Linked DNA regions of Homo sapiens: region 1 is linked to region 2. The links come from fine-mapping of genetic effects on plasma protein levels. A gene starts in region 2. The other region holds a variant in brackets. All regions are shown on one strand. Distances are between the middles of the regions.

What was found. A credible set is the group of variants that fine-mapping cannot tell apart. PIP is the chance, under the fine-mapping model, that this variant and not a neighbour inherited with it causes the effect. The UK Biobank Pharma Proteomics Project read protein levels with antibody pairs (Olink). The fine-mapping took linkage between variants from a reference panel, not from the people measured, so its PIPs are less certain.
Region 1: its variant is the best candidate, but not a certain one, in a credible set for the plasma level of the LUZP2 protein (UK Biobank, PIP 0.69).

What each region holds. Positions count from the first base shown.
Region 1 is chr11:25,051,944-25,057,330 of GRCh38, forward strand. All of the region lies in intron 10 of LUZP2 (leucine zipper protein 2), which reads left to right. Among named protein-coding and RNA genes, the nearest start is that of LINC02699, 400 kb to the right of the region's middle. The variant C/G (reference allele first, on the strand shown) is at 3,175.
Region 2 is chr11:24,495,056-24,500,442 of GRCh38, forward strand. It overlaps LUZP2 (leucine zipper protein 2), which reads left to right and starts at 1,998. Exons shown (of 12, transcript NM_001009909.4): 1 at 1,998-2,250. The coding sequence starts at 2,189.

The DNA.
Region 1 (5,387 bases), 560 kb after region 2:
CTTGTGTTGTTCTCCTTTGTCAGGGATAACTCTTCTGTCCTCAGTGAGTTCCAGAAGCAGATACTATCTGTTTCTGGTCTCAGTCTGGACCTGGGGCTCTTCAAAAAGCTGCCTCCACCAGAACAAATATAAATGTTATTTCACTAACCTGACTTCTGTCCTCTAGACTTTTGTATTGGAGTCTCTACTCCTAAGAAGCTACACCTTTTAGTACATAGAGTGCTCAGTATTCAGAGCCTGCAGATTCAATTATAGATAATAATGAAGAAAGTAATACAATGAGTGACATAAACCAGGTGTGAGTAATCGGAATTAGTGGGACATGCATGAACATCAGTTTTCAAGTTCTAGACCAGTACTTCTTAGCTCTGTCTCCAGAATAGTGTCAACCGAAGAGTACTTACAAAATACTGATGCCCACAACCCATTGCAGAAAAATTACCTCAGCACCTCAGTAGGTAAGGTCTAGACATTAGTTGTGTTAATTTTTTGATTCATCCAGATGATTCAAATATGTAGGTCATTTTTCACTAATAATAGATTTCCCATTCATAAGAACCCTCTGGGGAGCTTTTAGAAAGTCAGATTCTGAGCAATTCATCTGGAAATTTTTAATAAATAAAACTAGAGAGACTGTTTTTTGCCTTGTATAAATTTAGCCATAATATTCTGATTTGCATTAAATATTGTGAAATGTATTGCTTCCATTTTAATGTAGCAGTATCAAAATACTGACTACCAGTCTAGAGACTTAAGCTGCAATTTGGGTTGCTTTATTGAGTGTCCAAACTGAATAAGAAGGCAGAACTTAATTTCATTTTTTTAAATCACAAAATAAAATTCTTTATCACATTTCTACCTTTATATTTTGTCTATTTTGGGGTGTGTTTTAGGATCTTAACCTATGCCTTTATATGACTTTCCTTTAATCAGATATTGAATGAATGCTATTTAGTTTTTAACAAGGACAAAAAGTAGGATATAATGTAGTTTTACTTTGTTTTTAATGTCCTTAATAAAATTGATAGTAACTTTATTCCTATTTCTTGTTTTAACTTGATTTTCAGTTGTAATGAATTCAGAAATCCAAAAACCACTGAATCAGCAAATTTTAAAAATAATTAAAGAGAGAGTAAATAGGAACCTGAATCTAGGCAATCACAGAAACAATTGGGAACAAACAATGAAAAGTCTGTTTCAAAGAGAGAGCCCCAGGATTCTGTGATCAAATGAAGATGTAGGTATAAAGATGAAGTGTAACATGAGCCCCAAATGTATGTTTTATTGGCTTAAATAATTACATCATCATTATCAAGAAAGAAAACTAGAGTAGGAGATATTTTTGGTTAACTTTTTTCTATTTACTTCTGAACAGAAGAGATTGGTACTCTGTTAATAATTAGAATGGGTGAAAGGCACAATGAAGCTAATTATTTTTGAAATATATAATTTTAAAAAAGCTTTATTGAGATATAACTTACATACCATAAAAATTCACCCATATAAGTGTATGTTTCAATCATTCATCCCATTTGCTGAGTCCAGGACTGTAATCCAGTTTCAGAACATTTTCATCTCCCTAATATGATCCCACATGCCTTTTTTTTTTTTTTTTTAATACAATGAGTCCTCATCCCCACACTAAGCCTCAGGCAACCAAAAACATGGTTTCTTTTTGTATTTGTTTGTACCTTTTTATTGCTGAAAACCATTTTATTGTGTGGTGTACCACATTTCTTTATCCATTCACCAATTGCTGTCTTTTGGATTATTTTTAATTTGTAGCTATTATGAAAAAATGATGCTATGAACGTTTGCATAAACCACTTTGTATGGCAATGTTTTAATCTCTGTTGAGTAGGCACCAAGATGTAGAATTGCTGGGTTTGATGATAAGTTTATGCTTATATTGAAAAATTGGTACATTCTTTCCCCCTTTGAACAAACATGAGTGGTGCTTCTCTATTCTCCCATCTTCACCATTAAAACCTCATGGTTCTCAGAAAGGTAAAATTCTCAGTAATGAGGGCTCACCTTACCTTAAACTAAGCCTCTTGGAGTTTTTGTATTTCATGCTAGTCCATATTCGGCCTCCAGAAATTTATTAAAGATATTACATAAATATTCCCATCAACTACTGGCTCCAGCAGCTTTCACTTAGGTAGCTTGTCTGTGTTCTCTGTATTCACGGTCTCACCAGTTTTTGGGGTGGTAGTTTTTCTGTAACATTAATTCTTTGATACATCTAAGAAAAATTATTGATTATCAGTCTGTTCAGCTTTTTGCTTGTTGTGAAGGTGGAAGTGGAGACTTCCAAGACCTTTATGTGTCAGAGCAGAACCTGAAGTCCTAATTTGTGTCTTCTGAAACACACAAGCTTTTATTTTCAATAAAGTTCAACTCATCATTTTATTCTTCATGCTTTTGATATATCTAAAGAATTATTCACCTGTTTAAGCACACTGATTTTTTTTCTTATGGTTTCTCATATAACGTGTGTGCTTTTATTTCTTACATTTAGATCAATATTCTTCAATTTTTTGTGTGTGTCTGTGGATGGTGTTAGGTAAGGTTTTGCATTTATTATTTGCATGTTGTTATTCAGTTGTCCTAGTCTTTATAACACATTTTTAAAGAATATCTTTTTTTAATTGAACTTCTTTAGTATCTTTGTCAAAAAATAACTGACACAAACATGAGTTCATTTCTCATCTTTCAATTTTTTAATTGATTTATCCTTATGCTAATACCGTATTTTCTTGTTTTGATTTTTATTTTTAATTTTAGTGGTTACCATAGTAGGTGTATATATTTATGGGATGAGATAAAAACATGAGATGTTTTTATACAGGTATCCTTGGTTACTGTAGCTTTACAATCAGTTTTGAAGTCTACAATTTAAAGTACTGTGACTTTGTTGTTCCTTTTCAAGATTGTATTGGCTATTCTGAGTCCCTTACATTTCTTTGCAAATAATAAGACCAAAACATTGTCTTAATAATACTGTTTTTTTTTCAATCCATAAACATGGAATGTCTCTCCATTTTCTTAAATCTTTTTTTCTTTTCTTTTTTTTTTTTTTTTTCGAGGCGGAGTCTCGCTGTGTCACCAGGCTGGAGTGCCCTGGCGCGATCTCGGCTCACTGCAACCTCTGCCTCCTGGGTTCAAGCGATT[C/G]TCCTGCCTCAGCCTCCTGAGTAGCTGGGACTACAGGTGCCTGCCACCATGACCAGCTAATTTTTGTATTTTTAGTAGAGACGGGCTTTCACCATGCTGGCCAGGATGGTCTCGATCTCTTGACCTTGTGATCCACCCGCCTTAGCCTCCCAAAGTGCTGGGATTACAGGCGTAAGCCACTGTGCCTGGCCTACTTTAATCTTTTAAAATTTCTTTCAGCAATGTTTGATAGTTTTTCAGGGTACAAGTCTTGCATTTCTTTTGTCTTTATTTTTCTTAAGTACTTTTCTCTTTTTCATAGTATTGCAAATGTAGTATTTTAATTGCATTTCCAGATTGTTAATTGCTATATATATAAATGCAAGTAATTTTTGTATATTGATCTATCAGATTGAGGAGTTTTAACTGACTGTGAGCTCTGAGTTAAAACTGTGATGAGATTTGCACACCACCTATAGGTAGTTGCAGTGTTGATTTTAAGCAGTTACGATGCTACATCCAGAATAAAGGAGACACATCTCTTATCTAATTTCGCTTATCAGTCTAGACCGATAAATTCTGCCTCATTTTAGAAATAACACTCTGAGGTTCAACAATGACGAATGGAAAGTGTTTTCTAATGCTTGAGATAGAAGGCTGAAGAAAAAAGTTAGAATTGAAGGTTTGTGTTAATTTATGTTTCAACCAGTTTCCAGCTGTGTAATCATGAATATTTAACCCTTTTAAGACTGTTTTTTCTCCTCTGAAAAAGAGAGATAAATATCTGTTGCTTAATATAACTCATCCAAAGGATCCAGTGAGATAGCCCAGCTTAACAGTTAGCATATGACTAGCACAGCAAGCTCTCAATAATTACTACTTTCCATTCCCTTATGAAAGCTATGCCTCTCACAAAAAACCTCAATAAGTATTTTGAATTATATACTTTAATTAATTTATCAAATGAAAAAACTTAAAATATGAGCAAAGCAACCTTAAATACTGTAATTGTATTTGTAATGTATTTATAGTGAGTAGCCTTATTCAGTGCTACTTTACACAGCAGAACCAGATGCAGCTAGTAGAAACAGCTATAGGAAGAATAATATTTTAGTCAAATATAAAAATGAACTCTTAATGAAAAGTATCTGAAACTAGAATTAGCAGTTGGCGGAAGTACTATAATATATAATAGAATAATGAAAAACAGCCATTCTGGAATATAGTCAGGAATTGAGGCATTTGTGTGGAGGACAGACTGATCATGTTAGCATCTCTTTCAATTTCAGGATTCTATAATTATCAGCAACCTCACCACCCTGACAGCTGATAGGACCCCATGCAGTCTCTCAGTAAATAGATAAGAAAGATTATGCATTTTGATTCCTGTTGGTCATACCTGAGACTGAGTAACAGAAGAGAAAGCATGGGAATTACATAAAACCTAGATGTGTATATTGACTTTGCTGTTTCCTAACATTGTCGCTCTGGGAAGGGACTTTGTATTCAGATCCCTTTATCAATATAAGGTAGATGAAGATTTTTCAAATTTTAGCATACTAAGAATCACCAAGTCAACTGGTAAAACTGCTTATGCTCAAGATCCATTCCCATGTATTATTAATCCGTTGGTCAGGTAAAGAGCCCAGGAATGTGTATTATTGTAATAATCCCACGTAGATTTTCTTCTGTCAATATTTCATGTTAAACACTTTGAGAAATTGCCGGGCGCCGTGGCTCATGCCTGTAATCCCGGCGCTTTGGGAGCCCAAGGTGGGCAGATCACGAGGTCAGGAGATCGAGACCATCCTGGCTAACATGGTGAAACCCCATCTCTACTAAAAATACAAAAAATTAGCTGGGCGTGGTGGCAGGCGCCTGTAATCCCAGCTACTGGAGAGGCTGAGGCAGGACAATCACTTGAACCTGGGAGGCAGAGGTTGCAGTCAGCTGAGATCGTGCCACTGCACTTTGAGAAATTTTGTTGTTCATTTATTGCAGGTTTATTATGATTATTATATAAATATATAGATATTAAATATGTCACATTCAACCATATCATAGATATCCTTATTAGCTCCTTTTAAGAAGCAGCTCTGAAGTTTTAATACTCAAAGTCTCAAAATATTCTGTGGCCTAAGAATCAAACTTGGAATTATAAAACATGCTTATTTTTAGATATCTTTGTTGCTTTGTTCCACTTCCTGCCTATGGTATGCCCTATGTAAACCAGG
Region 2 (5,387 bases):
AAAATGTATTCTACAAATATGAGTGTTATTTCCTGGTGCACACATTAAAAAAATTGCCAAGTAGCCTTATGTCTTTGTTGAGTATACAACTCAAGTAATCTCCTTCAAAGTGAGCAGGGAATCTATGTTAGAAAACCCTGGCAGGAGCAAACCAGAGTTTTTATTTTACTTGGAATCAGAGTTCTGTTTTAGAAAAGTGTGGTGTCGTTTTTTTCTCTTAAATGATATGCAATTCACATGTTAGTTTATTTGTATATGCCTACTTATTAGGCATATACAAGATCGATAATGTTGTGGATCTTATTATTATTGCCCAAGGGGCTAATATTCACTTTTCAAAACTTATTACTCATCTAGTTCAGCAGCTCAAGATTTTGAAGCAAATCTGTTTTACATACATGTCTTAACCTTCAATCCCATTTAAAAAAAATAGTAAATTAGATGGTTAACCTTTTAGATTTGCATCCTCTTTAAAATAAAGCTTTACAGCAAATGCATTTTTCCTACAAATGTCTTCGAAAATGAGATTGAAGAGGATGTATCATCTAAATTTTTCTGTAAAGAGCTTGCCCCCGAAATAATTGGAACATGAACTGAAACCTCTAGATAGGAATTCCTGGACACAGCTGTCCATTATCTTTCGGGACTTTGGTGCACCTCACCCTTTACTGAACACAACTTTGTGTCAAACACTGGGCTAGGAGTGCTAGTTGTGATGTTTGAGGCAACAGTGGAATTTTTCTTAGGACTTAGTAGAACCAGTTCTTTTTTTTAATATGCATAGTCAGATTTTGATGATATTCAGTCTGCTCATATCTATAATAGTGATATTAACGTCTATTTCACTAGGATGGCTCTTGTGAAGATTAAATTAAATACTGTATGAAGAAGTGCCTTATACACAGTTATATAACCAGGATAATATCCAGATGGAATTCTCATTCTCTCTCTCTCTCTCTCTCTCACTCTCACTCACACACACACACACACACACACACACACACACACACATGCAATATCATCTTATAAATATCCTAGAATTGAATATCTCAGTAGCAGAGATAGTAGTTCTGTTTCTCAGAATTGCTTTTGCAAAATGGTGTTTTGGATTATAATTGTGCTATTTAATTTTTCTAATTAAAATTTCTAAATAGAGCCTATTAAATATTGGATGCTTATGATAGAACATTTGAAAATATAGAAAACCAAATGACCTACAAAACCTCTACCTTCCAGTACCATCATTCCGAGCTGATTACTGTTAACATTTTAATGGTTTTTGTCCGCTAGGTCTCCTTGATGAGTTTCACCTGAGGAAAAGGACTCCTTCAGGTGTGTGAACTTGAGCCACCAGGTCCAACCCCATTGGCAGGTGCTGGTACAGACGACTGAAATCAGAGGAAGATCAGAAATCTTCAAAACCCAGAGCAGCAGATGTCTTAACGGTCCCGAAACGTTCTTTGGTTCTTTGCAGTCAACATTCACGGGTTAAGAAGATTGCAATGCCATGACGGGCTGAGGTTGCATTTCTGGACGCTGCTTACTCCCGCTTCCTTCCATCTGTTTCAGGCAAATCATTATGCAGTTCTAATTAGAACAATCTTCTAAACACTCTCTCCAGAGCGACGTTCTTCCAAACACGGTTTAAGCGGCGAGAGACACCTGCCTAGGACCCTACGCGTCTGGAAGTCTCTCCCAGTGAATTGGGTCTCATCTCCTGCCGAGTACGCAAGTTCAATTATCGGCAGATTAGGTTTCTACTCTCCGTGCCCCGCCCCGCGCCATCCTGGGGAGCAGCGGGAATAAATGATCCGCCCCTGGCCAGTGCTCACCCGACTGACCAGAGCGCAGCCCGGTGACCGAAGCGCACGGGGCGATCGCGAGGCGCCCCCTCCCTCTCCCCGCGCCGCCTCCAGCGCGAGTGACGGCGCGCCCTCCGGGCTCCGGAGCGGCGGCGCCGAACAATCCCCGGCAGGGCTCGCCTCGCCGGTGACATCACTCCTGAAGATACTCCTCGCTCCCAGCGCCTGCCTTCCCCAGGCGTCCGTTCGTGTGCCCGTCTCCGCCTTTCCGCCTCGGAAGAGCGCTCATCACTGGCTGGGGACAGAGCCGGGCACCAAGGAGCGACAGGATCCCGAAGAGAGAGAGAGAAGGCAGCGAGGGAAGGAGGACCCCGGCAGGCAGCAGCATGAAATTCAGCCCAGCGCACTACCTGCTGCCTCTCCTGCCTGCGCTGGTCCTCAGCACCAGGTGAGTCCAGGAGCGTGAGTGACCTGAGGCCAGGGGCGCTGCCGGGGCGAGGTTGGTCCTACTGTGGGTCACCAGTGGGGGCCAAGGCACTTCAGCTGTTTGCATCTCCCGCCTAAGCAAGAGGGACGCTGTATGGTTTGGGCTCTGAAATCCTTCTGAGAGAGCAGAGCCCTTTCCTAGTTATCCCAGCCCCCTGGAGAAAGTCTTAGGATTGCTCTCAGTGAGGGATCAAAAGCTTTCTCTTCCGAAGGAGAGAAAAGACATTTTACCCTCCGGTCCTATTAGTAGCCAAAAGGTAACACGCGGTAAAAGAACAAAATAAAGAACGGAAATAGGCAAGGAGGGAATTGCCACCAGGCAGTGTCTTTACATTGGAGTTGTCTTAATAACCATAGAGCTTCTCCCTTCCCCCAAGTGTGCCTGATTTAAGGAAGAGGAAACCAGAGAAAACAGATTAATCCTGGAAGATGCTAAGACTTGTACAAAAGTTCCTGGACTCCTGAAATGGCATGTTTCAACGTCTTGGATAAGCTTAGTGATAGGCGTTTTCTTTTGACTGTCTTGTGAACAGGTCTAATTAAAGAGCACAGAAGGCGATTAAAAGTTAGAAGACACTCTCAGAGTGCTGATGCAGAGACCCTAGTCAGAAACAATTAAGTACTGTACTCCATCACTGGCCATGGATGGGACTTTAAGCCCCATTACAGAGGAGCTATTTTTGGTGGAGATTTAAAATGCAGAGATTGAGAAGAGTTTTGTGACTCCCCACTGTTGATCAAGTCCCAAAGTTGTGATGGGTTTGCTTTTTTCTTCCACAAGCGCAGCACAAAGGTGGACTGTTTAGTTGCCCAGGACTGTCTTTATTCTGCATGCCCTTAGCATCATATTGGCAGCAACCTCTTTCCCTTGGCTACTATAAAATAAAATAACCCACACAGGATGAAGATCCTTTCAAGTCTACGTGAATAGAAACATTATTTGATTGTGCATCTGATGGCAAATAAAGTAGGGATATAGGGTTGTTTCTAATTCTGAAATGGAAAAGGATGAAGAAAACTTACTCTGTCTTACAAATCAAGGCTGTAAAATTCTTGATTCCGTTCCTAATCTACACACCTTCTTTCAGGCCTGTGTAACCAAACTTTCCTTTTAGTGTAGAGACTATTTCATTTACCCTCAATAATTGATAAATTTAGTCTTTCCTTGCAAACAAAGCCCAGGTGACTTTCCCAGATTAAAATGAAATGTAAGTTTGATTCTTCATTTTCTGTAAGGTTTGCTTGTCACTTCAGCTCATAAAGTGCAGATGGTTTTAAAGAAAACCAGTTTGCTTCCCAGTATTATAATTAGTTGCTCTAAATACAGAGCCCATTTTAATATTTGTGGTTAGCTCTCAACAGTTCAATACAAATTATGCATCACAGTTATTCTTTAAATTCTTGCCATTCACTCTTATGTTGTGATTTAGTCTTCTAGAGAAAGGAAATTTTCTAACTTTGGACACTTAAGTAGATGACAGTCAACACATGCATAAATAATAGGAAATATTTAAACAATAGAAATCCAGCCCACAGTGATTTTAGACTGTGAACATCTCTAGAGTTCCAAAAGTACATTTGCTTTTTAAGGATACTATAATTAAATTGAATGAAAAAGCTCTATAGTCTCTAGCGTCCAAAGATTTAATGTTCGATATCTAATACAGGGTCAAAAAGCCATTATCTTTTCCTTTCATGAAAGTGTTGATTTTGATAGGGATAAATTTCTTTAAAAATAGTTAACACACTTATTACAACAAAAACTGGAATAATCATCTATTTCACTTTAGCTTTGAAACTTCTGCAATGCTTGTGGTATGTGAAAACTATGGTTATTAAATTTTACCAGAAGAGAATGCTGGGCTTGAAAAAGATGAAATATTTATAATAAGTAGCATATCTTATTAATGTGATTACTCTGTAGGAATTCATTTTACTGGATACCCAGAATACCCTGTGATATTGAACAAATATGAAAAGCAATGCGGTACTATCAGTGTCATTTTGCAAAGAAGAGAATATGTTTTAAAGATCTCTAACAGAAGGCCATTCTGTGTATAATATTTAACAGTTCTTATAGGCACATGGTTATTGTGCAGATTAGAACCTAAACTGAGCAGCTTTGAAAGGACAGTTGTGTTAGTAGGGATGAGCTTATTGTCCTGCTGGGAAAAGCTGAGTAGCTCAGCCATGGCCACCTGGGACAGTGGGTTTTCTGGCCAAAGACTTCTGTTAACTTAGTTTCTTAGTCAGTAGTCCTGTATGTGAAGCAAATGGTATTTCACATGTTTAGATCACGCTGGATGCATTAGCAGGTGGTGGTAATTGCTAGTTTTTCCTATAGCCTTTGGGTAATCTCACCTGTCTTTTATTGTCAAACTCTTTCCAAAGTGTAGGGAATGCAGAGCGGAGACTCTTAATGCAAATATATATATATATTTGTTTCATTATATCTTTCTCTGAGTGCATTGCCTTAATACTTTGCTATTTTATTTCCAATAGGTCTGAAGTTCAGTTCTATTTTAAAGTAATCTGTTCAGTGAAACAAATGCTGCAGGTGAAAAGGTAGTCTTTTGACTGTGTTGTGAACAGGTCTAATGGTATCTAGCCCACAGCGACTATCCTGTCTTTTAAACAGAAATTTTTGAATAGAAAACAATCCTGCCTTTTAAATAGACATTTTTGAATAGCTTTCTCTTTTTGCTTGTTCCTCCTTCTCACCTTTTCTGAAGCAACTTTAGATGCTGAAGCACAAAATCCCATAATTTAATCACAGTGAACATCAATGGCCCCCAATCAGAGTTAATGTATTTGTCCTGAAAGAAAGCTAAATGTTCAATTTACACAAAAGCCAAGCATTTTTCTCTGTTTTACTGGTAAACCCCATAGAGTTTTAAAAAACGAACAAAGAAAAAGAGCTGTTTAATGTCCTGGCATATGGTCTCTCCTGCTTAGAAAATGCATATAAATTACCAAAAAAAATCAAGTTAATGATATGAATAATGTAACTAATACAGAAACTCATTTAAACTGTACACAAATAAATGTGATCAAAGAAAGCAAACATGTTGGTTTAATAGCTTTGGAGTAGAATGACTA